Linked DNA regions of Homo sapiens. The protein of the gene in region 6 interacts with the protein of the main gene of each other region in a pairwise test. Each region holds a gene or a part of one and is shown on either strand. Other genes may lie near its edges.

Evidence for each region.
Region 1: the proteins of SPPL2B (region 6) and BRK1 interact in binary tests that used the Homo sapiens proteins (3 or more experiments, as listed by UniProt).
Region 2: the proteins of SPPL2B (region 6) and DR1 interact in binary tests that used the Homo sapiens proteins (3 or more experiments, as listed by UniProt).
Region 3: the proteins of SPPL2B (region 6) and GTF2B interact in binary tests that used the Homo sapiens proteins (3 or more experiments, as listed by UniProt).
Region 4: the proteins of SPPL2B (region 6) and PRPS1 interact in binary tests that used the Homo sapiens proteins (3 or more experiments, as listed by UniProt).
Region 5: the proteins of SPPL2B (region 6) and EEF1D interact in binary tests that used the Homo sapiens proteins (3 or more experiments, as listed by UniProt).

The regions. Positions count from the first base shown.
Region 1 is NC_000003.12:10,120,755-10,125,789, forward strand, and holds part of BRK1 (protein BRICK1), read left to right. Parts: intron 1-4,871; coding exon 4,872-4,954; intron 4,955-5,035. UniProt on the Homo sapiens protein: Involved in regulation of actin and microtubule organization. Part of a WAVE complex that activates the Arp2/3 complex. As component of the WAVE1 complex, required for BDNF-NTRK2 endocytic trafficking and signaling from early endosomes.
Region 2 is NC_000001.11:93,355,280-93,360,314, reverse strand, and holds part of DR1 (protein Dr1), read right to left. Parts: intron 1-5,035. UniProt on the Homo sapiens protein: The association of the DR1/DRAP1 heterodimer with TBP results in a functional repression of both activated and basal transcription of class II genes.
Region 3 is NC_000001.11:88,884,084-88,889,118, forward strand, and holds part of GTF2B (transcription initiation factor IIB), read right to left. Parts: intron 3,285-5,035; coding exon 3,178-3,284; intron 1-3,177. UniProt on the Homo sapiens protein: General transcription factor that plays a role in transcription initiation by RNA polymerase II (Pol II). Involved in the pre-initiation complex (PIC) formation and Pol II recruitment at promoter DNA.
Region 4 is NC_000023.11:107,641,262-107,645,509, reverse strand, and holds part of PRPS1 (ribose-phosphate pyrophosphokinase 1), read right to left. Parts: intron 3,145-4,248; coding exon 3,020-3,144; intron 334-3,019; coding exon 160-333; intron 1-159. UniProt on the Homo sapiens protein: Catalyzes the synthesis of phosphoribosylpyrophosphate (PRPP) that is essential for nucleotide synthesis.
Region 5 is NC_000008.11:143,587,416-143,592,450, forward strand, and holds part of EEF1D (elongation factor 1-delta), read right to left. Parts: exon of another isoform or gene 4,797-5,035; coding exon of another isoform or gene 4,674-4,796; exon of another isoform or gene 3,193-4,673; intron 2,667-3,192; coding exon 1,576-2,666; intron 1-1,575.
Region 6 is NC_000019.10:2,333,649-2,338,683, forward strand, and holds part of SPPL2B (signal peptide peptidase-like 2B isoform 2 precursor), read left to right. Parts: intron 1-953; coding exon 954-1,073; intron 1,074-3,794; coding exon 3,795-3,977; intron 3,978-3,983; exon of another isoform or gene 3,984-5,035. UniProt on the Homo sapiens protein: Intramembrane-cleaving aspartic protease (I-CLiP) that cleaves type II membrane signal peptides in the hydrophobic plane of the membrane. Functions in ITM2B and TNF processing.

The DNA.
Region 1 (5,035 bases), on a different chromosome or scaffold from region 6:
ACAGTGTTTATCCATGTAGGCCAGGAGCATAGTATTGTTCTTGAATTCTAATTCATTACCAGATTGACAGCTAGAACAGAATAGCCACCCAGGAAGGAAACTTCCCTCTCTCCTACCTCCCCCAATAATTTTCGTATGTCTTCATGGGAAATGGCAGGTTGTCAGAGATAATATTCATGCTCTTACTCAGTAGCATACATAACGTGCTTTCAGACTTCCAAAAACCAGACTGAAAAGAGGCTTGGTCCTGTTGGGCAGTTCCGACAGAAAGTGGCAGTACATCCAGGAAAAGGGGGATGCTGAAGTGATCATACTTAAGCTAGACCTGGGAATTCAAGCAGCACAAGCGTAAAAAGAATGAAGAATGTCCAGAAATGGCAAATCCATAGAGACAAAGATTAGTGGTTCCCAGGGACTGAGGGGTGACAGAATGGGGAGTGACAGGACTAAGAGGTATAAGGTATCTTTTGGGGATGATGAAAATATTCTAAAAGTAGATTATAATTATTGCACAACTCTGTAAGTATACTAAAAACCACTGAATTGTATACTTTAAGCAGGTGAAAGAATGGAAAGTGGCAGAGTTGGGCTGGAGACCTGGGGTATAAATTATAGCCCCGGAGGCACAGAAAGATGATAGTAGTGTGCATTGGGATGCACACAGTATGGGAAAGAATACCAGTGACCCAACATGGGCCCTCAGCTTACCTAGACCTCAGTTTTCCCACTTGTAAGGTGAATAGAGTTACACTAGAGTCAATCTTTTGTTCCACTAATATACCAGAATCCATCTTTTTTTTTTCAGTCAACATCTATGTACCAGGCAAGATGCTAAGGTTACAAGAGGCAATATGTACTTCTTTTGATTAACTTGTTCTAACGGTGAAACAGACATGTAAATAAATTGTAAATTACAAGTACATAAATATCATTTGGTTTCGTAACATGAATATTTTCCTATTTCATTAAATATTCCTCAAACTTTTTTTTTTTTTAAGACAGAGTTTCACTCTTGTTGTCCAGGCTGGAGTGCAATGGTGCAATCTCGGCTCACTGCCTCAGGTGATCCACCCACCTCGGCTTCCCAAAGTGCTGGGATTACAGGCGTGAGCCTCTGCACCCGGCCACTTTTTTTTTTTTTTTTTTTTTTTTTGAGATGGAGTCTCGCTCTGTTGCCCAGGCTGGAGTGCAGTGGTGCAGTCTTGACTCTCTGCAACCTCCGCCTCCTGGGTTTAAACCATTCTCCTGCCTCAGCCTCCAGAGTAGCTGGGATTACAGGTGTGCGCCACCATGCTTAGCTAATTTTGTATTTTTAGTAGAGACAGGATTTCTTTTTTTTTTGTATTTTTAGTAGGTATGGGGTTTCTCCATGTTGGTCAGGTTTGTCTTGAACTCCGACCTCAGGTGATCCGCCCGCCTCGGCCTCCCAAAGTGCTGGAATTACAGGCATGAGCCACCGCGCCTGGCCACTTGTAACTTTCAATGGCTATTTTAATAGTCTCATTAATACGCTATATCAAACCATTCCAATCATGGGCATTTGGTTTTGTTGCTTTTTCACCATCTTAAATAGTAGTGATGCACATTCTTATTTGTAAAATCTTTATCCAAAGAGGGAAGTCATAACCAAAGACCAAGTACATGAATAACTTACAAATTAGAAATTCAGAGGCTGGCACGGTGCCTCACGCCTGTAATCCTAGGACTTTGAGAGGCCAAGGCAGGTGGATTGCTTGAGTTCAGGAGTTTGAGATCAGCCTGGGCAACAAAGTGAGACCCCCATATCTACCAAAACAAAAAACAAAAAAATTAGCCAGGCACAGTGGCATCCACCTACTGAGTAGTAATTGCAGCTACTCGGGAGGCTGAGGTGGAAGGATCACTTGAACCTAGGAGTTGGAGGGTGCAGTAAGCTATGATTGCAACACTGAACTCTAGCCTGGGTGACAGAGCAAGACCATGTCTCTTTTAAAAAAAAAAATTCATCCGTAAATGTTTAGATAAATACAGAAGAGGAAGAATTATTATGTCCATCTGGCAAGACCTCTCAGAGATAGAATTTGAACTTAGCCTTGAAGGAGATAGGCAGGCAAGATGAGTAAGATTTGGACATAATAAGATGAAAGTTGAGGCAAGATCAGGGTGTAGGAAGATTTGTCAAAATGGATGCTGAAGCGCTTTTGCAAAACAGCCAGGGAATAGATGAAAAGGAAACTTGTTAGCTAAGTGTTAAATCATTGCGTGGGAGAGTCTCAGCGAATATTTCAGACTTGAAAACTGAAGTTTATTGAGAGATGACTGAACAACAATGTTGGAGGAGAGAGTAGAAGATAATGACCATGCTAAGATACCTTTTCTCTCATATGTTGAGAATAGTTGGAAAAAGAATAGTTCCTGTTACAGAAGTTTGCAGAGAAAAAGTTGTTTTAAATTAAATCTGGTTTCATTTTGAATGAGATGGTAAAAGAAGATTGGAAAAGCTAGAGGAAGAAGAATAATTTTGGCTGTTTTCACAGATGGAATGTGGGCTTTATCGGGTATTTGATGCTCTCCAACTTTTCTCTAGTTCTGAAAGGCCTTTGCCTCTAGGAGCAACAGTAGTGACATGGCTTTAATGAGCTCAGAACTCTCACACCTTCCCTCCCCATAATTTCTGCTGCTTTCTTGGCCTCTACTTTCTTTCCTTTTTTTTTTTTTTTGAGACGGAGTCTCACTCTGTTTCCCAGGCTGGAGTGCAGTGGTGCAATCTCGGCTCACTGCTACCTCCATCTCCCGGGTTCAAGCAGTTCTCTGCCTCAGCCTCCCGAATAGCTGGAATTACAGGCGCCCGCCACCACACCCGGCTAATTTTTTGTATTTTTAATAGAGACGGGGTTTCATTGTGTTAGCCAGGATGGTCTCCATCTCCTGACCTCGTGATCCACTGCCTTGGCCTCACAAAGTGCTGGGATTACAGGCCTGAGCCACCGTGCCTGGCCTTTTTTTTTTTTTTTTTTTTTGAGATGGAGTCTCACTCTGTCACCCAGGCTGCAGTGCAGTGGTGCAATCCCAGCTCACTGCAACCTCCGCCTCCCAGGTTCAAGTGATTCTCCTGCCTCAGCCTCCCGAGTAGCTGGGACTAGAGGCACCCGCCACCACACCCAGCTAATTTTGTATTTTTAGTAGAGATGGGGTTTCACCATGTTAGCCAGGCTGGTCTCAAACTTCTGACCTCAGTTGATCTGCCCACCTTGGCTTCCCAAAGTGCTGGGATTACAGGCGTGAGCCATCACGCCCAGCCTCGTTTCTTTCCTGTTGAGATTATTTTCTTATTCTTGCCATGTCCCCTCTCTTGAAAGTCTTAGTTAGGCCATTAGTAAATGGCTGTACAGCCTTGGTGTATTCATTTGCTATTCCTGGCATAACATATTACCACACAGGCTGGGCACAGTGGCTCACACTTGTAATCTCAGCACTTTGGGAGGCCAAGGCGGGCGGATCACGAGGACAAGAGATTGAGACAATCCTGGCCAACATGGTGAAACCCCGTCTCTACTAAAAATACAAAAAAAAAAAATTAGCTGGGCATGGTGGCGCACACCTGTAGTCCCAGCTACCTAGGAGGCTGAGGCAGGAGAATCGCTTGAACCCGGGAGGCAGAGGTGGCAGTGAGCCAAGATTGCGTCACTGCACTCCAGCCTGGAAACAGAGTGAGACTCCATCTCAAAAAAAAAAACCAAAAAAACAAATTACCACACATTTTGTGGCTTAAACCACATACATTTATTATTTACCATGTGTAGGTCATAAATCAAACACTGGTCACTGGGCTAGCAATCTTCACACCTTGGCCAGCAGTCTTCACACCTTGGCCTTCTGAAGTATTAGGATTACAGGCATGAGTCACTGCTCCTGGCCTGGGCTCCAATCAGGGTTTCAGCAGGACTGCCTTCCTTTCTGGAGGCTCTAGGAGAGGGTCTAGTTCCTCGAATATTGGGTTGTTGGCAGAATTCAGTTTCTCGTGGTTGTAGGACTGAGATCTCTGTTTTGTTGCTGGCTGTGAGCTGAGAGTTGTTCCCAGCTTCTAAAGGTCACTTACATCCCTTGGTTCATGGCTCCCTTCTTCCACTTTCAAAGCCAACAATGGCAGATTGCATCCCCTTCACACTTGGAATCTCTTTTTCTTCTTCCATTTCATCTCTGACCCCCTTCCTATGCCTTTCTCACCTACATTTGTGGACTATGATTAGATTGGGCCCAAATGGACAATCCAAGACAAACTCTAGGATCTCAAGGTTCTTAACCTTAATCATACCTGCAAAGCCCTGTTTCCTCATGTATAATCCATATTCACAGGATCCAGGGATTAGAGAAAGGACTTTTTTTTGAGACAGAGTTTTGCTGTTTGACCCAGGCTGGAGTGAAGTGGCGAGATCTTGGCTCACTGCAACCTTTGCCCCCCCCGGTTCAAGTGATTTTCCTGCCTCAGCCTCTTAAGTAGCTGGGATTACAGGCATGTGCCATCATGCCTGGCTAATTTTTGTATTTTTAGTAAGAGACAGGGTTTCATGATGTTGGCCAGGCTGGTCCCGAACTCTTGACCTCAGGTGATCCACCCGCCTAGTCCTCCCAAAGTGCTAGGATTACAGGCATGAGCCACCGTGCCCTGCAGGAAAGGACGTTTTTGTGGGGCCGTTATTCTCTACTTGCAACACTTGATAGGAAGTTCAGCAGATCCACTCTAAGCAACTGTGCTATGAGTGGATCTTAGCACTGTATCCATTTCCATTTGTATTCTGTGTATTATTCCTCTTTTTCATTGTAGGTGTTGTGTGTGTCTGTGTCTGTGTTTGGAGTGACATTAATCCTGAACACCAGTCTCTTTTTCTCAGATATGTCTTGTCGTTCAAGACTTGCAACACTAAACGAGAAATTGACAGCCCTTGAACGGAGAATAGAGTACATTGAAGCTCGGGTGAGTTTGATGGGCAAGGGCATTCCAGAGAGAATGCACATTTCCACTTATTGCTGAAAAAAACCTGAAAGCAGAAACAGT
Region 2 (5,035 bases), on a different chromosome or scaffold from region 6:
AGAGATTGCTTTTTTCTAACTACACAGGTCTAAGAAATTTCTCAAACTTGGATCTCTTATAAATGGCCCTGTTTTATTTCACGTAATTTATGACCTTTGATTCAACTGAAGAAGTTGAAAAAGTGGAACCAATATTGTGAAAAACCCACAATATTCCCTCTGGCTCTTTCCCTCTTCTTTTCCTTTCATTTCACTTGACTCTTCTGTACCCTCATATTACAACTTTGATACAAACATTTTTCAATCTAAAATTTATTTATATGGTTTAAAAGTTCTCTAGTATAGTACCTCTACCTCATAGGAAAGAAGTACTGTACATGTATGCAGTAGCTACCCCATTATTTCTTTCTGAGTTTCTATTACAATTCCCTAACCTACTATATGCCTATCTCTCTGTGTCCCTCATTCCCTCTCTGTAAGTACACACATTTGCATATACACACATACAAATATACATATCCTTCCCGTATACACACTAGTAAAAAGATACTACTTAAAATCCATTCATCTGATATATCCTCTATTAAAAACAACCACAGGATTTAAGAAACCAGGATGCATACATTATTAATTACCTATGAAACAGCTAAGGCTCCTTCACAATTTAATTTCATCTGTTTGCAGAAAAACCACACCAAGAAGGGAAAAAATGAACCTGTTCTTAAAAAGGTCTTACAATTTCCCATTAGACTCTGCCAAAACAATCCTTTTCTCCTTCTCTGTCTGTTCTTGGAATTGTTCTTTAAGTCCAACTCAGACCCTCCCCTTTATGCATAGCTAATTCCTAGTCATCATCTGAAATGCAAATCAGCTAGTCTTTCTTGACCTTTCCAAGCCATATTTTATGCTCTATTTAATATACCATAATTCCCTATGCATTCCCATATCCATCCACTTTGTTCTAGAATTATCTAAGTTTATATCCTTTTTTTCCACCACACTTGAGAATAGAGATTGTTTCCATATTCTTTGTTGCATTCCTAACATAAAGGCCCTCAGTATTTTCTGAATGAACATGCTACAGGAAAACAGTGATGCCCAGCATAACCAGTAACATTTAAGATTTTACCATGTACAATCCTCACTCTTCTGAATAATCTGTCATGACTTTATTATCCAAACATTTCTAGATATAAATTCTAATCAGGTCACTATTTCATTTTTTTAAAAAAAATCATTTGTTATCAATCAAATCCAAATTTCCTAGCCTAGAGTTCAAGGTCTTCCAAATTAGTGTCTACCCCAACCTCTCTATAGTCTTTTTTTGTAACATGTACTTTGTGCTTCAAAAAAGCCTAGAACACAAAATGTTTCCCAAATATACACCATACTTCCTCATCTTTGCTACCTTTACTCATGCTGACACTCATCCTATGTGAAATTTCCTGCCACTTACTGAAATTCTACCCTTCCTTCAAGTCAAACTGAAATACTATTTTCTCCTCCTGGCATCAGTCAGTGTATAATCAAGAGATAGATGTCACATGAGTTACTGGAATGGAAAAAATTTAATACGAAGAATTGTTAAACAAGTATAAAGTTGTTATTAGGGAGCTGAAAAGGCAGGAAGAGAACATGAAGATGTCATGAAAGTAGCAGCTACAGGAAGCAGCCACCAACCCTAAAACTGAGGGAATAAAGGAAAATGCTGGAATTTTTAAAATTTAGAAGCTTAAGAAACCACTTCATGGAACTGAAACTCAGGCCTCGGAAGAATGGGCATAGATAAGCTAGTACTAATATATCTGCGCTTGGAGGAGGGCCCCAAGGGTTGGGATCCACACTGCCAGAGTGGGGGGATGGGGTGCGGGTTCAGGCTGGTGGTGTATTAGAGAAAATGCAAACCGCGTTCAGTCTCTGCTACAGGAAAACTGATGCAACCAGGGTGAAGAAGTGTTGCTGGGTTGTTCAAAGGAACTGAAAGACAAGAGAAAGTAAGAGAAAACCCTTTCTCTTCCTCCATCCATGCAATCTCCCACGATAGCCCCATATGGCAACAGAGTCTAATGGAGAGTCAGCTAGCAAAGAAACATGTGGCTTGCAGAGTACTAGGTCCAGTCACAAAGCAGAGCATAGAAAGGTGGGTCTGGAGCTAAGATAATTGCTTACTAGTTGGCATACTCCTGTACCCCTAAAATTTGATGTAATGTTTCCATACTTGGGATTTCTTTCTCTTTCCTTCTTCCCTCTTTCTTTCTATTTTTGTAGAGAGAGGGTCTCACTATATTGCCCAGGTTGGTCTCAAACTCCTGGGCTCAAGTGATTCTCCCACCTGGGCCTCCTAAAGTGCTATGATTACAGGTGTGAGCCACTATGCCCAGCCAGAATCTCTTTCTCATAAGTGGTCAGCCTCATATTATAGTTATCTTCCTCATCCAAGTAGTCAGTCTCATAATGATATATTCTTCATTTTTTTTTATATCTATAGTACCACATATGTCTTACATACAGTAGGGACATGTTAATTGAATTCTGACTTGAAATTTGTTGACTGAAGGGCAGGAGTAGGGTGGTGCTGGTGTAGGTGGCAGTAGTGAAGTGGAAGAAGAAAAGCTATTACCTTGGGGGAAAGCTATCCAAGTAACCATAGTATCAGAGACTAATAAAGGAAGAGGTCTACATTAAATGTTATTTTTAAAAAAACAGATGAGTAAGAATTGAAAGGAAAAAAAATTACTGAATTTGGTGATTAAATGCCTCTGTGGTAGGACAGAAGTTAAATTTGAGGAATAAGTGATTGTACATTTTCAAAAAATGGTAGCACTGATCATTATTTATTTATTTATTTATTTATTTTAGAGATGGGGTCTTGCTATGTTGTCCAGACTAAAGTGCAGTGGCTATTTACAGGCATAGTTGTTATGCACTGCAACCTTGAACTCCTAGCCTCAAGGGATTGTCCTGCCTCCATCTCCCGAGTAACTGGGACTACAGGAAGGTGCCACCTTGCTTGGTGGGTAACACAGATCATTATAGCAAAAGATGAAAGGGTTTGGGGGATACAAGGAAATGCAGAAGACCCGTATATGGTTAAAGGCAAAGAGGAAGAAATAAGTAAGGAAAAGACTATAGATATTAGAAAAAACAAGGATAAGACAACTTTTACAGTAAACAAAAACTTCATTTTGCTTAGGAAATTAGAAACCATCCATTCTCCCTAATAATGACTGTCATCCATTTTTGTAAAGAAATAGGAAAAATAGTTGATTCTAACACAATAGCATATTTACTTTTACGGCAGGAATATCCAGAGTTCAAAACCAACTAACAGAGCTTCGCTAAAAACATTTTAAGGCCGGGCGCGGTGGCTCATGCCTGTAATCCCAGCACTGTGGGAGGCCAAGGTGGGCGGATCGCCTGAGGTTGGGAGTTTGAGACTAGCCTGGCCAGCAGGATGCAACCCTGTTTCTACTAAAAATACAAAAATTAGCCAGGCATGGTGGTGCATGCCTGTAATCCCAGCTACTTGGGAAGCTGAGGCAGGAGAATCGCTTGAACCCGGGAGGCGGAGGTTGCAATGAGCCGAGATAGCACCACTGCACTCCAGCCTGGGCAACAGAGCAAGACTCCATCTCAAAAAAAAAAAAAAAATTGTAAGAGTTCATAAGAAAATTGCAGGGCAAATCAAATACATAAATTCAACCAACATAAGCATACCTATATTTTGTGGTCTAATCAACTACAAGTTGGTATAATTTTGTGACATGGAAAAAATTCAAATAATTTCAAGTCTCTACAAAGGTTTTACTGCAAAGGTGCTTGATTTGGTAGTCTATTCAATGGTCTGCAAAGCTGTGTACTAGTTACATTTCAAATTTAATTGACTTTTAGCTACCACGGCCCTGTATCAGCGCTGATACTTTTCTCTGAACATAAAAACATTTCTATGCCTTTAAAACTAACTGTTGAGCTGGGCTCACTAGTGCACATCTATAGTCCCAGCTACTCATGAGGCTGAAGCAGGAGGATCCCTTGAGCCCAGGAGTTCTAGGCTGAAGTGTGCCTGATCGAGCCTGTCAATAGCCACTGTGCTCCAGCCTGGGCAACATGGTGAGATCCTGTCTCTTTAAAAAAAAAAAAAAGTTGATTGATAAAATTTTATTTGTATTCATTTCCACAAATTGAACATTTTTCAGTGATATTTACTGTAATATATTTTTTTCTCTCTTGCCCCCTACTCAATCCATCCCAAGTATTTTTCTTCTAAAATTGGGGTGTGAAAGACAGGTAAGCAGGCATGTATTTCCTAATTCACTTTTCTTTTGGAGGTTTTCATTATGTTTTAAGATTCTCACTCCCACATATTAAAATGACTCATTTATAATTTAAAGTTAACTTTAATCTTGATGTATTAAAGGTTCCCTCCTTCCAAATATTTGCTGCTAGCTTCAAATGAGGCTGTCATTGTGTTAATATTTAAAGTCTAAAAAATGAAACAAAATGAAAGTGATAAAAAAGATATATTTACTTATCCACTCTTTCATATTTAGAACTTCAGTGCTCTAGGGAAGAAGTACTAGGCAACTGCTATAATATTACCTCTCCGCTGGTCATCCTCACAATAGTAAAGAAATACTAGAGATCTTCATACATAAGTCAGGGTAAGAAACAAGGGAGACAAAAAAGAGGAATAAAAAAACAGATAATAGGGATAGAAAGGTGAAGACAGATATAGCAGGCAGTCAATTATTTCTTTATATTTTGCCCTGGCAAGGATAATACATATTCTATTTAAAAGCCCCATAATAAGTTTAAGCATATAAAATGGAGGCTAGAGCATCAGCATGGTATGTTAGAAACAGTACAGGCTTTTGGGTCAAAATACCTAAGTTTAAATATAGACTCCAACACTTCCTAACTTTCTGAACTTACTGTTTTATTTAAGTCAATCTTTCCCACTCAATCTTCCCCAGTAGATTAAGCTCTATAATGACAGGAACCCTGTCTCCTTGTTCACTCTTGTAAGCCTAGCACCTAGCATGATGCTTGGTAAATAGTAATGACTTCAGTAAGTAACTGTAGAACAAATGACAAA
Region 3 (5,035 bases), on a different chromosome or scaffold from region 6:
GTGGTGCAATCTCGGCTCACTGCAAACTCCGCCTCCCAGGTTCAAACAATTCTCTGCCTCAGCCTCCCGAGTAAGCTGGGATTACAGATGCCCACCACCACGCCCGGCTAATTTTTGTATTTTTAGTAGAGATGGAGTTTCACCATCTTGGCCAGGCTGGTTTTGAACTCCTGAACTCATGATCCATCCGCCTCAGCCTCCGAAAGTGCTGGGATTACAGGCGTAAGCCGCTGCACCTCGCCCAACACTGACTTCTTGAATAAACAACTGCAAAGCAGCAATAACATTGATCTAGTCATCAAGAGCCAAGGAAAAATATACCTGAGCTAATTTGCCTTAACTTTTAATTGACTACTGATGTTGCTCCACTGTCCTCAACTCTTCAAGCAACTGTTCTTGGTGAGATGCTAACAGTCTTAAATAAATTTATTTTCTCTGCATACATTTCTTCAGCTGTTGCAATCAAATATGAATTAACCTATCATTGGTAAATGGCTTTCCTTGCTTGGCCAAGAAATAAGCCACTTAGAAACTTTAGTTGCAGCCTCAGTTTCATTCTTTTATTTTTGTGAAAAAATTCTGTTGTGTTAAGATATTCTATTTTACATTATTTTCTGACCATTGTTTTCCTGAGTTAGAAATATTCTGATGAGTGCTCAGTATGGTAATGTCCACGCTTACTGTATTCTTTTAACACAGCTACAGTATCATTGTGTAATAAACACAATGTTTTGCCATCTAATTCAGTGACAAAATAATCCATACTCCACCATGCCTTAAAAGCATGACATTCAAAGTTAACTTTTCTTGTTTTGGTGTGATGGATATGTAATGGTAATAAAAACAAATAAATAAAATAGTGCAGTATGGCAACATATGTGGCGATCAACATGTTGCTGTTATAACTGCATCACTGCAATTAGTATGCTGAGCAGCAGAAAAAAAGTGATGAGAGCTGCACATGTGGTTTCTGTTGAAGCTACTAAGCTCTGCTGTTGTAATGTGAAAAGAGTCATATACACTATGTAAACAAGTGAGTGTTGCTATATTCCATTAAAACTTTATAGATACCAGGCCAGGTATGGTGGCTTACACCTGTAATCCCAGCACTTTGGGAGGCTGAGGCTGGTGGATCACCTGAGGTCAGGAGTTCAAGACCAGCCTGGCCAACATGCTGAAACCCTGTCTCTACTAAAAATACAACAAGTTAGCCAGGTGTAGTAGTGGGCCCCTGTAATCCCAGCTATTCGGGAGGCTGAGGCAGGAGAATCACTTGAAACTGGAAGGCAGAGGTTGCAGTGAGCTGGGATCGCACCACGGCACTCCAGCCTGGGCAACAAAAGGGCAACAAGAGCGAAACTCTGTATCAAAAAAAAAACTTTGGCCAGGCGCAGTGGCTCACGCCTGTAATCCCAGCACTTTGGGAGGCCAAGGCGATCGTATCACCTGAGGTCAGGAGTTCGAGACCAGCCTGACCAATGTGGAGAAACACCGTCTCTACTAAAAAAAATACAAAATTAGCTGGGCATGGTGGCACATGCCTGTAATCCCAGCTACTTGGGAGGCTGAGGCAGGAGAATCACTTGAACCCGGGAGGCGGAGGTTGTGGTGAACCGAGATCACGCCATTGCACTCCAGCCTGGGCAACAAGAGCAAAACTCCGTCTCAAAAAACAAACGAAGAAAAACTTTATAGATACTGAAATTTGTATTTTCACATGTCCTAAAATATTATTTTTGATTTTTTTTAACCATTTAAAAATGTAAAAGCCAGAATTAACAAATAGGCCATATATAGGTTGTACTTTGACGACCCCAGATTAAAATTTTATTATTATGAAAGGCAATACAAGATAGAAATCTGCCTCCCACGCAGACAATGGAGCCAGTCTTCTAGACTACCTAAACGTCAGTTTCCTTATCTGTAAAATGAAGATAATGGTAGTACTCACCTCACAGGTTTGTTGTGAGGATAAACTGAGTGAATATGTAAATCATTTAGAATAGTGCCTAGTATATAGTAAACATATTAGCTATTAATATTCCTTACTCAGCAGAATACGGTTGCAAATGATTCTCAATTCCTATTAGCAACTCTATACTTTAAAACTCCCACTATAGGTCTGAGGCAAGCAGCCTTCTTGGACCAAGTAAGTCAAGTCCACAGTATGCCACTACTAATGCTTCTGTTATACTGCCCACAATCCTTCTAGAATTTTCATTCTTAAGTAATTCAAACTGCTAAATATTACCCCTATTCTCAGATGCTACAACTCCACCACAAGAATAATTTTTGAACAGACTATCTGTAGTCTAAAGTTCTGCTGCATATCTAGATTAGTGTGCAAGTAGGAACAAGGTGAAACTTTAAGTGTTATTTTTGGCAATAATTTTATACAAGATATTCATCAATAGATGACTGTATAAAAGTTATAATAAATCTTCTTTTTGACTAAAAGGCTTTAAGTGGGACTCAAAAATCATGTTTATCTACTTCCCAATGTATAAAAAAGCCACAAAAGTTTGATTACATGTATTCATTATTTAATATGCATGAGTGTCAGCCCATCTCTCCAGTCCTCTACCAAATATTTCAGACTAAGGACTTATGAAATTACTGGGGCCTTTTCGTTTCTTCTGGATTAGCTCCCACCCCACATTATAAAAATATACATTTGGATATACAATAAAATATATCTCTGAATAAGTTTACTCGTTTCTGTTTCCTAATTGTTTTTTTGCAATAAATTATTTGTTGGGGAAGAAAGTCAAAAATGTGTTCATTAAATGATAGTTTGGAAACTATGCAAAAGTGAAGGACCCTAAACATTATTATTATTATTATTTTTTTTTTGAGACGGAGTCTTGCTCTGTTGCTCGGGCTAGAGTGCAGTGGCACGATCTCGGCTCACTGCAACCTCCGCCTCCTGGGTTCAAGCCATTCTCCTACCTCAGCCTCCTGGGCAGTTGGGATTACAGGTGCCCACCACTACGCCCGGCTAGTTTTTGTATTTTCAGTAGAGATGGGGTTTCTTCATGTTGGTCAGGCTGGTCTCGAACTCCTGACCTCAGGTGATCCTCCCACCTTGGCCTCCCGAAGTGCTGGAATTACAGGCGTGAGCCACCATGCTTGGCCTCCTGAACAGTAATTTAAATTAAAACCATAATAACAACTCACCTACAACCAAGCCACATTCAGGACAGATCATATCACCGGCTCTGTAGTCCTCCACTAAAATCGCATCTGGATGGTTTGGACATGTGACTCTTGGAAGAGCATCCAAACTAAAAGAAAAAAGTTGTATTTTTACATCTTCCCAACCAACATGTATCAAATTAATCTTCTGGGATGGGGGATGGGGAAGACAAAGATTGTGAACGTTTTTTCATACATACAACTGTAACACATATAAGCTAGATTTTCAAAGTAAACATCCCAGTTAGGTTATTTTAAATTCCAGCTAGTAACTGGCAAGTAGTTTCCACTGGAATTCTTATTTTATTGTGGAAGGCTTTCAAAACATAAATAGAAAATAATTGTTTCTTCTCTCAATATGTATGCCAGTAAGACTTTTAGAAATGTTGATTAGTATAGTAATGACTAGTTACCGTAATAACCTGCAGCATTTACATTACCATCCAGTTTGTGCTCTTTGCCACTTATTTCTCTAGTCAGAGAACAATTTCTCTCTGTATTTTTCTACTTGTTAACTACTTTAGTAACAGATTTAAATAGTACACTGAACCCAGTAAGTATAGAAATGAGGGATGGTAGAAGTTGCTCTGCTGAACTTAAGACTTGATGATTTCCTTTAGTCCAGAATTGAGTTATTGAATTTATCATTCAAGAAATTGTTTCAAAAGCTACTTGTTATCTGTGATATTAATAATTAGCTCAATTTATTTTGAACAACAAAGCAGTTTGCAGAAGACACATTCATCTTTTTTTGACACATTAATCTTAAATGATCTGACAGAATCAGCTGTAAAAGCAACAAAGATTTGATCATTATTTCAGGGGGTATGACCTCACAATCATAAATTCTTGGTATCACTGCAAATAAGGCCCTTTTAAAAACCATCTGAAATACAATAAATGGTTAGGTTATGGACATCAGATACACGTAAAAGACAAAATCAACTGTTCTTATAGTATGTAAATAGTATTTGTGGTTTGGGGTAAAGTTTCTCATGCTAGCAAATACAATTCAGAATGTTAACTCTCAACTCAGAAGGTGATATCTACGGGAAAACTGATAAAATAATCCATATTCCCCCCTAAACTTATCTAGTCAGCTTAACTAGAATATGTCTTGAATCTTCTCATTGGGAACACGGGGGGATGAGTATTACTTCATATTTGTGTTTATTCCATAAATTCCTCTAAGGAAAGTATTTTAATAAATTATGACAAATAAAATTAAACAGTTGATATAAATTATGAAAAACCATGTTGAAATAAAGGAAAATGTTAGCAGAGTAACAGTAATTACAAATTAGTAAAAGAGGAGGCCATGTGCAACACGTGCTAAGAACTAATATCTCTGCAGTATTAAAAAGTAGATAGAAAACTATAGTTTGTGTAATGATACAGAAACATCTCAAAGATATGAAGAGTGAAGAATAAGGTAGAAAACCTATACAAAGCTGAAAAGTATGAACTAACCATACACCATAACATGGATGAACCTCAAAATACTAACAGAATCTAGACAGCAGAATACATATGCCATTTATGACAACTTTAAAGCAGGCCAAATGAATTGATGGAGTTAGAAATCAGGATGTGGTTTTCTCAAAGGAGGGGGAATGACTGAGGACAGAGACTTTGCTAGTGTCTTAGCTAGTGCTAGTGGTATCTGATTTCCTTACCTGGGTAGGAGCTATATGTATGTGCTCACTTTGTAACTGAGCTGCCCACTTTTAAAATGTGCTAACTTCATTAAAAAAAGGTAAAAGCAAGGTAGTGAATGGAGTTTAAATTAGGTCACTTTCGTGGGGGAAGAGAGGTTAGAACTATTCCTATACATTTGTTA
Region 4 (4,248 bases), on a different chromosome or scaffold from region 6:
ATTTCTATGTATTATAATTTAAGCCTTGGGTGATAAAAATCTCACAAAGTTACTTATCCCCTCAATTTGGTTCCAAAAGGAATCAGCAGGCTGAAGACATTCAGACAGCAATTGCTAGCTTTTTCCTTCTAACTACCAGCCCCATCAATCCACACTTACTTGTCAGCTGCATGGCAGATTGTGCCACAAGTGTCAGCCATGTCATCCACAAGGATGGCCACCCGATCCTTCACATCTCCCACAAGCACCATGCGGTCCACTTCATTGGCCTTCTTCCGTTCTTTGTGAATCAAGGCAAAGTCCACATTCAGCCTGTCTGCAATGGAGGTCACTCTGCAAAACAGAGCGTGTTCATATGTATGTGTGGCTTCTAAGACAAAAGAAATGGACTAAAGAGGCCGGGGGCGGTGGCTCACGCCTGTAATCCCAGCACTTTGGGAGGCTGAGGTGGGCGGATCACAAGGTCAGGAGATAGAGACCATCCTGGCTAACACAGTGAAACCCCATCTTTACTAAAAATACAAAAAATTAGCTGGGCATGGTGGCGGGCGCCTGTAGTCCCAGCTACTCGGGAGGCTGAGGCAGGAAAATGGCGTGAACCCAGGAGCTGGAGCTTGCAGTGAGCTGAGATCGCGCCACTGCACTCCAGCCTGGGTGACAGAGCGAGACTCTGTCTCAAAACAAAAAAAAAAGAAAAAAAGAAATGGACTAAAGAATGGGCTTGTTTTGGGGAGGAGAATACTCCTTGAAACCAATAGTTCCCAGGGCTGGAAGAATGAAAGCAACTATCATTGACTTCTCAAAGGCAAATATCACAAACTGGGTTTTATAAACCAGTGCCTCCATAGCTCAACAGAAGCTTATGAACGTACTGATCAAACTTAGATGAGTATTCATTCTGGGTAGAGGACAGACACCCTCACCAGTACTGGGAAGCAGTATAACGCTAAGACACGCAAGTTTATTTAATGGATTGGCAGCAGAAGGAATGAGGAAAGAATTAACTAATGCCAGGAGTACACAGACTGTCCCAATTCCCATCATGGAAGACCCGTGAATGGGGATGTGGTGAGAAGAGAACCTGACTGGCAGGAGAGGAGCAGCATCCAGCCTGTTCCAATGCCTGTGTCCTCATCACTTCCCTCAGTGCTGTTGGCAAAACATCCATCAACTGTCACTGTCAACTGTACCTGGACACCAAGCTTGGGAGTTTTTTTCACAATTGCTAGACAGAAAGTTATATCAATTACCCAGACAAGCTAGGCATCTCACCATTCGGTCCAAAGTATCTTCCAATCAAAGAGAATTCTTATTTTTCTTATTACAAGAGAAAATAAACCAGACTAGAAGGTAGGATAGAAGACAAATTTGTCTTTTGACAAAGTACCACATAATTCAAACAAAAATCTATTCAGTGTAAATGACAGTGAGCTGCCCCAGTGGCACGTCTGTCCATGCTCCGCTGTGCCATCTCCGTCATGTGTGAAGCAGCCCGTGCTTGGGGATTTGTCCTGTTTTTTAATGTAGAACTGAACAAACTATAGCATTTTGTCCTGTTTCTCTTGTGACTATGGTCACATGAGTTTTTGCTGGATAAGTGAGAACCTGTGACCACATAATAAGGTTTGAACCATAATCTAGGTAACATTTGTACCTTGATCTAAACCAACCATACCCTGTACTCTCCATTACTACTACTGCATAAGCACATAACATCAGTGGTAACCAATTCGCTTGGAATGATTACTTACCCAAGGCAAATGCATGATCAATTAGTTCAAGTATCCCAAACCAACCATACTCAAAGGCCAACAAATTCAGTGACCAACAAAGCATAAAAAGGGCTAGAAAAAGTAACTCTCTACACCTTTTGAGGAGAGAACTACTGTACAAATGAATATCACACAGGGATCTCTACCTACTCCCCAAACCCTGCCAACACAGAAGTGATAGACACTCAATTGTAAAATACTCCATCACTATAAGACAATGATAATGAAAAAAAAATCAGGTAGCAATAAGTTGTCTACTAAAGGCAGTTTTCCTATACCCACCTTTGGAAAGAAAATCCTGCCTATTTCAAATGTGACTATTTTCTAAGTCCCACAGAAAGATATTAAAATAATGACCGACAAATTAAATATGACAACTACTAGTTGGGGGGATGTTTCTTAGGCTGTCTCTAGCATTACAGATGGTAACTAGCAATTACATGGGACTCACCAACCCATATATCTGGCTGGATAACATAACTCAAGTTCTCAGCTTATCAGTTCTGTTGAAGTTACTGAAATAAAAGAGGTTGTTGAGAAACAGTCATTGAAGATTTGAATGGCTTTTAGAAAGTTCTGAATTAGCTCTTCCTAATCATCTGTGTTTTGTAGCTCTTCATTCTATTTCCACAACAAGAAGAACATGTGTCACACTTTTGAATGCATTACTAACGAGTAATCCACTAAGGAAATCAAGAGCTCTTAGTCTGCACCATGTGAGCTGCAAAGCACTGTTAACTGGCAATCCCTGGCAATCAGTTTGTTTAAAATGTTAAGATCTTGGCTTTAAATAAAAATGTCACACTTTACTTTCCTTCCTGCTTAATATTTTAATCCCAAGGATCAAAATGATCTAACCAACAGCATTGTAAGAGGAGTGTAAAAGCGAATTTGTCCACCAATATGTGGTTCAATAGCAGCTGCTATTCATTAGAAAACCACATTTTCTACCCTTCCCAAAAGGTTTATAGCTGTATTGCTAGCTCTGTAGCACCAAGTTACTCATAAGTTATAGTCAAATCCATAATATGATGATTTAGGACCCCTTTTCTGTCTTGTCTTCCGAGTAGTAACTGAGGACAGTAAAAGAGGAAAGGGTAAAACTATATTCAACCCATGTGCTAGCTACTTACATCCATTCAAAAATACTTAAAAACTGCCACTTGGATAGAAAAACTTCACTTTGTGACACAACCATCTGAAAGATTTTCCCAGTACATTGGGAACAATACTAATTTCAACCATACCTCTTAGCTCCACCAGCATCAGGTGAGACAATAGTGCAGTTCCTCCACTCAGAGATATTCTCCCTTATCCACTTTAGGACAGCCGGCTCTGCATACAAATTGTCTACTGGGATATCAAAAAAGCCCTGTAGAAAGAAGCTGGATCAGTTTTGCTTCACTTTCCTTCTCTTCCATTTATAAATGGCAAACACAAAGTAGTAACTTGCTCAGAGAATGTCTTACTGCAACATTCAAACTGATGGGAAGGCAGGCCCAGTGTGGTAGATTATAAAAGCCTCCTTGAATCTGGGCTATGTGAGAGAGCCCAGCCAAGATCAGCAAAGCCAGCCCTCAGTCAACCCACAACTGAACATAGGAACATAAGTGAGCCCTTGTAAAGAATGGCTAAGTTCAGACAAAACCATTAAGAACTGCCCAGTCAACATGCAGACTCAGTGAGTTTGTAAATACTGCTTTATGCCACTAAGTGTTGGACTGATTTGTTAAGGAGTAAAAGCTAATGGATAAACCAGTTAGAGATGCTATGGCATATAAACTTAATGGAAGCTACTTATGATAAATAGTCACAGTGAATAATTAGAAATCAGGAGATCTGTGTTCTAATTCTAGTTGATACAAATTAGTTGTATTTCTCAATTAAGTCATTCCTTTCCATAAAAGGAGTACAGTCCCTGTCCAATGTACTTCATTGAATTCCCACAAGCTTGAAATGTAATGATTTGAAAAATCTCTTTGAAAAAATATAAAATAAAGGTGGTATTCCACCCCCCTTACTTTGGGTTTATGTTGGAAAGTAGGCTCCAATATCTGTGGCTCTAAATTTAAGACCATGAGGCCAGGCACGGTGGCTCATGCTTGTAATCGCAGCACTTTGGGAGGCTGCAGCAGGCAGATCACTTGAGGTCAGGAGTTCGAGACCAGCCTGGCCAACATGGTGAAACCCCATCTCAACTAAAAGTACAAAAAAGTTAGCTGGGCCTGGTGTCAGGTGCCTGTAATCCCAGCTACTTGGGAGGCCGAGGCAGGAGAACTGCTTGAACTGAGGAGGCAGAGGTTGCAGTGAGCCAAGATCGTGCCACTGCACTCCATGAATATTCAAGGAGAATAAGAATGATAATAACAGCTCCTATCTATGAGTACCTGTCATGGGCCAGGCATTATAATATGAATTTAATGTTTTATACTCACAATAATGAAAAAGTATATGTTCAGAGAAATTAAGTAACCTT
Region 5 (5,035 bases), on a different chromosome or scaffold from region 6:
GCCTCCTGGGTTCAAGCGATTTTCCTGCCTCAGCCTCCCGAGTAACTGGGACTACCAGTGCACACCACTGTGCCTGGCTAATTTTTTGTATTTTTAGTAGACAAGGTTTCACCATGTTGGCCAGGCTGGTCTTGAACTCCTGATCTCAGGTGATCCACCCGCCTCGGCCTCCCAAAGTGCTGGGATTACAGGCGTGAGCCACCGTGCCCGGCCCATTTCTCAGTTTTAATTGCTAATGTGGTAAAAATCAATAGATACAATGAAAGCTCTTTGGGGTCCTGAGAGCAAGAAGGTTGAGAATTGCTGCCCTAGACAGGGACCATGGCCCGCAGGCAAATCCAGCCTGTGGTTTTACTGGCACAAAGCCCCACCTCGTGCCACTCCCACTGGCCAGCAGCAGAGGAGCTGGGCAGATGACTCTGTGGCCGGGGCCCAGACCCTCTGGTTCTTTATGGAGTTTGCCGCCCCCCACCCTGGACTGGCCAAGACCCTCTTACTGTCCAACCAAGCACAACAGAACTGTCCCCCTCCTGCCCTGCCGCCAGTCTGTGTGTGGACTCCGGACCATCGCTGGACCTTGCCAAGTGTCCTCTCGGTAACAAAGGGCTGGAGTCTGTGAGCGTCCTCTGCGTCCCTGACCCAGGACACTCTCTCGGCAAGGAGGGACCAGGCCACCGTGAACACCAGGGCAGGTGGAAGGGCAGGAGGTAGCATTCCCCTATGGGGTCCTGCCCTCAGGTTATCTTGTTAACCAGCAAATCCAGACCCCTAGGGGTCCAAGGTTGGAACCACTTCCTTGGGGGCCTCAGCAGCTGCTTGGGACCTTCAGAGTCCTTCCCTGACTCAGCCCGCCCCACCACCAGGACACCCTCGCCAACAGGCCAGCCTCGCCACTTCCATGCCCTCTGTATTCCCCTCCAAGTCCAATCGTCCACCCACCTGCCTGGCCCCAGAGACCGCTGCTGGGGTTGCACCTGCACCCTGGAGCAAGCCCACAGCACCCAGAGGGAGGTCACACAGACGGGGCACCCTGGGATGGAGGCCACCTGACCAGCCACATGCCCATGCATCTGAGACGCCACCACCTTCCCTCAGAGGTGGTTTCAGGTGACAAGGAAAGCTGGGGGTGCACAGGATGGACAGGCAGGGACACACTGGCTCCCACATCTCATCGCAGGGGAGCGCTAGGGCCAGAAACCAGCTTCAATGCTTCCCGCCCCTATAAGTAGCCTTATCTTCTCAGCCCTGGCATGTGACAGCCACAGGGGACTTGGGGAGCTTCCCAGCCAAAGAGGGACCCTGGGCAAGGCAGAGATTCTGCCCTGTGCTGAGCCCTTCCCTGCCCTCATCCAGGCAGCCTGGAACTTTGTAACCTCAAGCAGTGTCCCTGGAACCCACAAGCGCAGCACCACCTTTACTCAGCCTGCTCCTGCATTCAACTCTGCTGGGCCCACGGGTCTCGGGGAGCCCCCACCCCAGGTGGGCAGGGGAGGAAGCTGGAGGAGCCCCAGCCTGGGATGGCTGTCCCTGTGCCCACAGCCCAGGCTGGGTGCCCACCCAGCACGTTTCTCCTACTTGGGTCTCAGGCTGGACACGGACAGGCCAGACCGAGGACCGGGTCGGTGAGACAGGGAGGCAGCTTCGAGGCACCAGGCCACCCGCAGGGCCTCGGCAGCGTGGTGGCGGCACTCGGCGCTGTCGTAGGCAGGCTTGCTGAGCCAGGGGGCCTCTGCATCCTTCTGCAGGAAGTAACAGTAGGGCAAGGCAGAGGGGGCCTCCCCATCGGCCCGTCGCAGCCCGGCCCGCTTGTTCCCTAAGATGTTGCGGCCCCGCCGGTCTCTGCGGCCCCGCCGGGCACCCTCGGCCAGGCCGGCTCGCTCTTGCAGGCGCACCTTCCCTGGGGGATGGCCGTCAAACAGGGCCTCGTAGAAGCCCCTCTCGGCTGCATCATACCGGGGCTTCTCCAGCCACACCTCCCGAACCAGTGCCTGCAGGCTGCCCAGCGGGGGCTGGCCATTGACCGGTGGGCTGGGCTGGTGGGCCAGGTCGGGGACGGCCACCTGCTGGCCTGTGTTGGGAGTCCCCTGCCTGCGGCTGCCGTCGGGGGCCAGCAACAGGGCCTGAGACCACTCCACGAAGGCCCGCTCAGCCTGGTCGAAGGAGGACTTGTTGACCCAGATCCCCCAGGTCACGTGGTGGCAGGCCACCTGGTTTCCATGGGTGCAGAGACCCCAAGGGGCCAAGGCAGGAGGCCAGGCTGCCTGGGCAGCCACATCTGCCAGCTTCTGGCGGTAGGAGCTCTCTGCCTGGTCGAAAAGTGACTTGTCCAGCCACACGCGTTCGGCCGAGAGGCCCAGGAGGGCCAGGTCCGCGGGGCCGAGCCCGCTCTTGGGGGAGCGCTTCCTCTTTTTCTGCAGGGGCTTCCTGCTGTCCTGGCTCTTCCTGGGATCACGCCTGCTGCCGCCGTCAGGGGCTTCCGCCTCATCAGCGTCCTCAGGGTCGTCCTGGCCGGGCCCATTCATGGCTGGCCCCTCGGCTGGCAGCTGCTGGGCGGAGGCGGCCGCCTGTGTGGCCTCGTGTTCGTAGAAGCGCCGCTCGGCCTCCTCATACTTGTGCTTGTCTTCCCACACGGTCTCCAGGGTGCAGGAGGCCTTCCCGCTCCTCATCTTCCGGACACAGCGATAAAAAGCAAGCAGAGGGCAGAGTTGCAACACAGCGGGTGGCCGCAGCCCCGTGCCCACCCTCCCCGTGCCCGCCCTCCCCGTGGCTGCCCTCCCTGGGCAGGGGCTGAGGATGCTCCCCAGTGGGGCTTCCATGAGATGACATTCGAGGACTTCGAAGTCAAGCCCATGTGGGGACGTTTTGTTGTGAAGAGAAAACAGGCCGGGCGCAGTGGCTCATGCCTGTAATCTCAGTACTCTGGGAGGCCAAGTGCCTCCCAATACATGAACAATATATAATTTTGTTAGTGAATGTATGGCCCATGAAGTATCTGAGACATACTTACACTAAAAATTTTTCGTCATTTATCTGAAATAAGCTTTAACTGGCTAACTAGCTTTCCCTGCATTTTTCCACAGGCCAGGCCTGGCCACCCCACCATGGTGGCTGGTGTTCCCATTCTACAGAACGGTCTCTGTGGCTGTCCTGGCCACACCACTGCCACACCCAGAGCACCCTCAAAGTTCTTACAAAAGAAGGAGCCTCGGCCAGGCACGGTGGCTCACACCTGTAATCCCAACACTTTGGGAGGCCGAGGCGGGCGGATCACAGGGTCTGGAGACTGAGACCATCCTGGCTAACACGTTGAAACCCTGTCTCTACTAAAAATAAAAATAAAAATTAGCCGGGCGTGGTGGCAGGCGCCTGTAGTCCCAGCTCCTAGGGAGGCTGAGGCAGGAGAATGGCGTGAAGCCGGGAGGCGGAGCTTGCAGTGAACCGAGATGGCGCCACTGCACTCCAGCCTGGACAACAGAGCAGGGGAAAAGAAAAAAAAAGAGGGAGCTTCTTTGTGGGCCTGACTGTCCTCCCCAGGAGGGGGCCAGGTGGCCGGGCAGAGGGTGGAGTGCCCACTCATGAAGGAGACGCCAGGGAGGATGCTGGTGACCACTGTGTAGAAAGGAGGGGCCAAGCGCCTGGAGCACTGAGACGGCTCTAGGCTCTCTATCAGCTGCCCCCGCCTCCCAGCTGGAGTCCATACCTTTGGGTCCATCCAAGCTAAAGGGGAATCATGGGGCTCTCACAGTCCCAGGACATCAGGGCCCCCTCTAAGGTTTTGCTTCTGTGTAATGTTAAGAGGGACCATCTTGGTGGGAGGCAGGTTGTGAGGCTCCACTCCCCACTTGCTACTGTGGCCTGGGAGCCTCAGCCTCCTCCCTGGATGAGGTGTTCCCTCAAGCTCTGGGCGACCTCAGTCACCTGCTGCCCCAGTGCTCCAGCAGCCATGTGGGATCCTGCCGGGGGCACGCTCTGCTCCCAGGTGTCCAGTGTGGTGTTACAGAAAGGACAGGCCCAGAAGGCCAGGGGCAAATCTGCTCTTGGGATGCAGGTCAGCACCCCAGCCCGCGCTCAGCCTGCGATAGCTTCCTCCCCAGCCATGCCCGACTCCAGGCTCTGCTCCCCAAAAGCAGAAACGCCTGGGCCTAACCAACGCCTAGGAGCACCCTCAAGAGGGGGCTGTGCAGCTGCCCCTCACAGACACCGCTGCTAGTCTGCTGCCTCCGCAGGTGTGTCTAGTGGAGCCTGAGGGCAGACAGACCCAGTGGCCCCAGGGCACCGTGACTGGGACCACCTGCCTGGTCTGCACCCAGAGGGAGGCAGCCTTCGGTCAAGAGCAGACCCTTCACACCAGTGGCTATGGGTCTTCGCCCCTCTTCTAACATCCTTACCCAACAAAACCAAGGCTGGCTCCAACGCCCCCCGTGGGGTGCTGAGCTGTCTACGCTCCACCCAGGCAGGGAGGACTTTTGGGAAGGCACCCCTGGCACTGCACTCTGCAGCCTCTAAGTGGAACATGGAGTTCTTTGCGGGCATGTGGCCCGAATCCCGCAGTCCCAGCAACAAGTTCTAATGGCACCAACGAGGAACCGGGGCCCATGGGAGGCCACAGGGCCCATGAAGACGCTCCCTAGGCTCCCCTGCTCATTCCTTCCCCAGGCTGGGGCAGCACTTACCAAGGCCAGGCTGATGGGCAGAGGCAGGGGTTGTGGGTTGGGGGTGGGGTGGGAGCAAGAGCCCAGGAGACAGGGCATTGTGACATCGTGCGGTGGTACCCCCACCAGTCTCTCTGCTCCCATGGAGCCGTGCAGGTCCCATCAGCAGTGCCACTGAGCTGGCCCCCAGTGTTGATGCCCTACCAGACTTTATTGGCCAAAGTGGCCTCAGACTATGTTCTTGGGGGCTCCGGGCAGAAGCCGCCGCTCAGGGAGGGGAAGCCACTTCAAGGCTCCTACCGAGACCTGGCACTGCCACCTGTTCCCTGCAGGGAGCCGCATGTCAGCTGCTGACCCGCCAGCCCAGGACAGGACCCTGCTCA
Region 6 (5,035 bases):
CCCGTTCTGTCCTGGGCGCGGTGGCCACCACCCCTGCTTCTCTTGGCTGGCTTTGGCCTGTTGTCCCCGTTGTGTGTCAGGGGCTCCTGCCCGTGGATCCGGGCCTTCTCCCTGTGGCCTTCTCTGAGCTGCTGCTGCTGCAGGCTGGAGAGCAGGAACTTGAAGCCCTGGCTGGCTGTTCCTTCTCCCTCCTGCGAAGTGGGAGCTGCTGTGCTGGACTCTGCTGCTTTGGGGCTTCATGGGGAACATGACGCTGTCTGTCCTGCTGGTGGCAGCGTGACCTGTTGCAAACCTCAGCCTGTCCCACTCAGGACCCGGTGCCCGTAGGCCCCTTGGCCCACCTGCTTCCTGCTGTTCTACCAGTGGGAGCTGAGGGGTGCTGATCTGGGGATCCCCCTCGTCTGGGCCCCACCGTGTGCCTGGGCCCCCGTGTGCCTTGGAGCACCAGCCAACAAGCAGTGCCCACGGGGCTGTGGGTCAAAGGCCACCCAGACCTGAGGGGTGCAGAGGCTTGCTTGTCCAGGCCTCCCGCCCAGGCTGGGGGCCAGGTCCGCTGGGGCCCTGCCCTGCTTCCCTGCTCAGGGCTCTGCCCGTGGCTCTGCCCGTGGCTGTCATTCTCCCACCGTGCCCACTGATCCTGGGAGGCCCAGGAGGTGGTGCGATCCCTGTTTTTTGGTGCAGAAACTCGGGAGCCACAAAGGGGTGACCTGACACACTCATGGTCACCAGCCTGGGGCTCCCTGAGGAAGGTGAGCCAGTCTGGGTCTTTGCTGTAAACCACGTATGGTCACGTCCCTGTCTGTCCTGTCGAGAGGGGGAAGCATCCCAGACCACCTGGTGAACATGGGCGCCCTTCCTGGAGGCGTCCTCCCCTCCTCGGGCCTGTTTCTCGTGGGGCGGTGCAGCCCCGCACGTCCCGTGCTGTGGCTCTGACTGCTGGCCTTGTCCTGCAGGTGGCCTGTGAGTACGGCATGGTGCACGTGGTCTCCCAGGCCGGGGGCCCCGAAGGCAAAGACTACTGCATCCTCTACAACCCGCAGTGGGCCCATCTTCCGCACGACCTCAGCAAGGCAGTGAGTACCCGCTGGCCGGGCGCCGCTGCGGAGGAGAATGCGGGGGCCCCGGGGCTCTAGAGACACATCCGGCTGGGGTTGCAGGAAAGATCCAGAGGCGAGAGGCAGGCCCTGACCAGGTCTGGGGGACTCTTAGCTGGCCCCCAGTTCCCCTGGGCCTCCCCAACCCTGGTCATCAATGCAAGCTGTCCATGCGGCCTTGGGGTGCAGATCCAGAGGCACCGGCCGAGCTCCATGTGGTAGATAAGGGTCTCTACTGCTCCATGCCGGGGACCCTATCCAGTGGGCCCAGACAGAGGGGTCCTCAGAGGAGTAACAGCAGAGGGCACAGTGGGGCCCCAGGGACGAGACCTGTTCCTTTCACCGTCTTCCTGACTGGGGCACTAACACCTGCTGCTGGATGAGTCCCTCCCTCAGAGGCCCCACCTCCTTTCCCACTTAGTCCTCATGCCCCGCCTCCTTTCCCACCGCATCCCTCAGGCCCCGCCTCCTTTCCACTGCATCCTTCAGGCCCCGCCTCCTTTCCCACTGCATCCTTCAGGCCCCGCCTCCTTTCCCACTGCATCCTTCAGGCCCCGCCTCCTTTCCCACTGCATCCTTCAGGCCCCGCCTCATTTCCCACTGCATCCTTCAGGCCCCGCCTCCTTTCTCACTGCATCCTTCAGGCCCCGCCTTCTTTCCCACTGCATGCTTCAGGCCCCGCCTCCTTTCCCACTGCATGCTTCAGGCCCCGCCTCCTTTCTCATTGCATCCTTCAGGCCCCGCCTCCTTTCCCACTGCATCCCTCAGGCCCCGCCTCCTTTCTCACTTCATCCCTCAGGCCCTGCCTCCTTTTCCACTGCATCCCTCTGGCCCCGCCTCCTTTCCCACCACACCCCTCTGTCCCTGCCTCCTTTCCCACTGCATCCTTCAGGCCCCGCCTCCTTTCCCACCCCATCCCTCAGGCCCTGCCTCCTTTCCCACCGTATCCCTCAGGCCCTCTCTCCTTTCCCACCGCATCCCTCAGGCCCCGCCTCCTTTCCCACTGAGTCCCTCAGGCCCCGCCTCCTTTCCCACTGTGTCCCGCCCCCTCCTGGAGCCCTCGAGGTGTGCCGGCGAAGAGGCACTAGCATCTTCCTGTCAGCTTTATGCATAGTGTGTGCGTGTGAGCACGTGTGTAATCAGTATGTGCCTGGACATGCTCATGTGTCTGCATGTTTATGTGAGTTTGCATCAGTGTATGTGTGCATGTGCCTGAGTGTTTTTTTGTGTGTGAACACATAGGTGTGTGTCAACACATGTAATAGGTATGTGAACACATGTAATAGGTATGTGTGAAGACATGTGCCTGAGTGCATATTTCTGAGTTTGTGTGTGTGAGCACATGTGTACTAGATATGTGCATGGACATGTGTGCCTTAGTGCGTGTTTGTGTGTCAGCACACCTGTGTGTGTGAGCATGTGTGTAATAGGTGTGTGGGGGCATGTGCATGGGTCTGAATGTGTATGTCTGTTTTTATGTGCACATGTGCCTGTGAGTGTGCATGCAATAGTTTTGTGTATGGATGTGTGAGTGCATGTGTGTCTGTATGTGTGCAGGTGTGTGTAAGCATGTAGCTACATAATAGTTATGTTTGTGGATGTGTGCATGTGTCTGCACATGTGTGCGTGTGTACATGTGTAATAGGTCTGTGTGTATGTGTGTGTACATGTGGATAATAGGTTTGTGTGTGGATGTGTATGTGCCTGTGTGTTTGGGTTCGTGTGTGTGCATGAGTGTGTGTGAGTGCATGTGTAATAGGTATGTGCGTGTGAGTGTGTGAGTTCATGTGGCGTGTGTGTATGCATGTGTGTGTAATAGGTGTGTGTGCGTGAGCTTGAGTGCACAGGTATGTGCTTGTATATGCACACGTGTGCTGTGTGCTCTGGCCTGGCTGTGTGTGCGTGTGTGTGTGCATGTGTGTAATAGGCATGTGTCTGCTTGAGTGTGAGTGTGCATGTGTGTGCTTGCGTGTGCATATGTGTGCCATGTGGTCCGGCCTGGCTGTGTATGTGTGCACGTGTGTGTGCATGCACTCCAGCCTGGCTGTGGGTGTGTGTGTGTGTGCGCGCTGGCCTGGCTGCGGCTATGTGCGTGTGTGTGTGTGTGCACTCCAGCCTGGCTGTGGGTGTGTGCGTGTGCACTGGTCTGGCTGTGGGTGTGTGTGTGTGTGTGCATGTATGCATGTGTGTGCCGTGTGCTCCAGCCTGGCTGTGGACGTGTGCTTGTGTGTGCGCGTGTTCCGGCCTGGCTGTGGGTGTGTGTGTGCGTGTGCGTGTGTGTGTGCGTGTGTGTCTTGGCTTCAGGGGCTGTGAGGCCCCTGAGAGTTGGGGCTTTGTTCTCTGCACACTGGAAACCCTCCCCCTTCTCACAGATGCCTGGCCGTGGTGGGGCTGCGGTGGGGACCCACTTGGTCTTGCTGAGTGATCTGTGACGGCTCGCGGGGTGGCTCAGGTATCAGGGGACAGCCATGTCTGTGAGGACTCCGGCCCCGCTCAGATGAGGCAGCCCAGCCCGTCGCCCAGGGTCCGGCTGTGGGAGCTGCAGTAGGGATGGCTCTGCCTAGGTGGGCCGAGGCCGTGCGGGGCTTTAGGTGAGGGCTGGGATCTAACTCAGCGCAGGCTTCAGGTGGGAGAACGGGCAGCTGGGCCCTCCTGGTGACTCACATCACGTGAGACAACACTGTGCCCTGGCCTTTCCAGTCTTTCCTGCAGCTGCGCAACTGGACGGCCTCCCTGCTCTGCTCCGCAGCCGACCTCCCCGCCCGTGGCTTCAGCAACCAGATCCCGCTGGTGGCGCGGGGGAACTGCACCTTCTATGAGAAAGTGAGGCTGGCCCAGGGCAGCGGAGCACGCGGGCTGCTCATCGTCAGCAGGGAGAGGCTGGTACGGCCCTGTGCGTCCCCCGCTGGGCCAGCTCTCAGGGGCAGGAGGGGGGTGCAGGAGGCAGAGATGGCAGCAGCTGGGGCTGGTCTTCCGACTTCTCGCTAAAGGCAGATCCATCTGTGGGGAGGATCTGGGCCGAGTGTGAACATGGGGAGGATCCGGGCCGAGTGTGGCCGTGGGGAGGGCGGAGATGAGTCTGTTCTTCCTGAGCTGCTGGCTGGGGCTGTGGAACTTTGGCCGTGGTCTTGTTGGGTGCCTGTCCTAGAGCAGCCCCCAGGGGTGACGGAGACCACACTCTCTGTGGGGATGGGATTGGGGTGGCTTCTGAGGAGCAGGTGGCCTGGCCCTGAGCTGGTCCTTTCTGGGTACCCTGGTGCCCTTGCCCTCTAGCCGGTGGGGCCGTGCTCGCCTGTGGTCCTAGCCAGGTGGCCTGAAGCCTGGCCCCTTTTCCATCTTCTGTGAAATGGGGCTGTGGTTGAGAGCTGGGGGCCTGGCAGGGCTGGTCACAGCACAGGGACATGCCGACTGCTGGGCTGGGCAGGGTGCGTGGCCGCCCCTGAAGTGTAGTTTTGGAGTAAGAAGGAATGGAGTTCAGGAATTCCCTCACAGCTCTGCCTGTGGCTCTGGGCTGCCCCCGCCAGTGTTGCACCCTGAGCCTGGCAATCCACGGAGGCCTGGTGCAGGGGCTCAGGGCCGAGGGCAGAGCAGGCCGGGCAGAGCCGAGAGTGCCATCCCTGTCCGCACACGCTGCCGTCGTAGTTGAGAGAGGCCCTCAGTGGGTGCGGGGCTCAAGGCGGCTTAGTGGGCAGGCATGGGCTGTGACAAGTATCACTCAGGACTTGTATGTGCGGTTCGGGAGTCCCACGGCCGAGGGAGGGATTAGTGGCGCTTTTAGGCCTGGGGCCCTGTTGTCAGGTGAAGAAGGCTTGATGCCCTTCGGCCTCCCTGTTCTTGGGTCCTCCTGGGGGGCCGGAGGCTGTCAGCTGCAGAGGGGGAGCCAGCAGGCGCCCCCAGCCTGACCCGAGCCTCGAGTGAGGGTCCCAGGAGAGGAGGCGAAT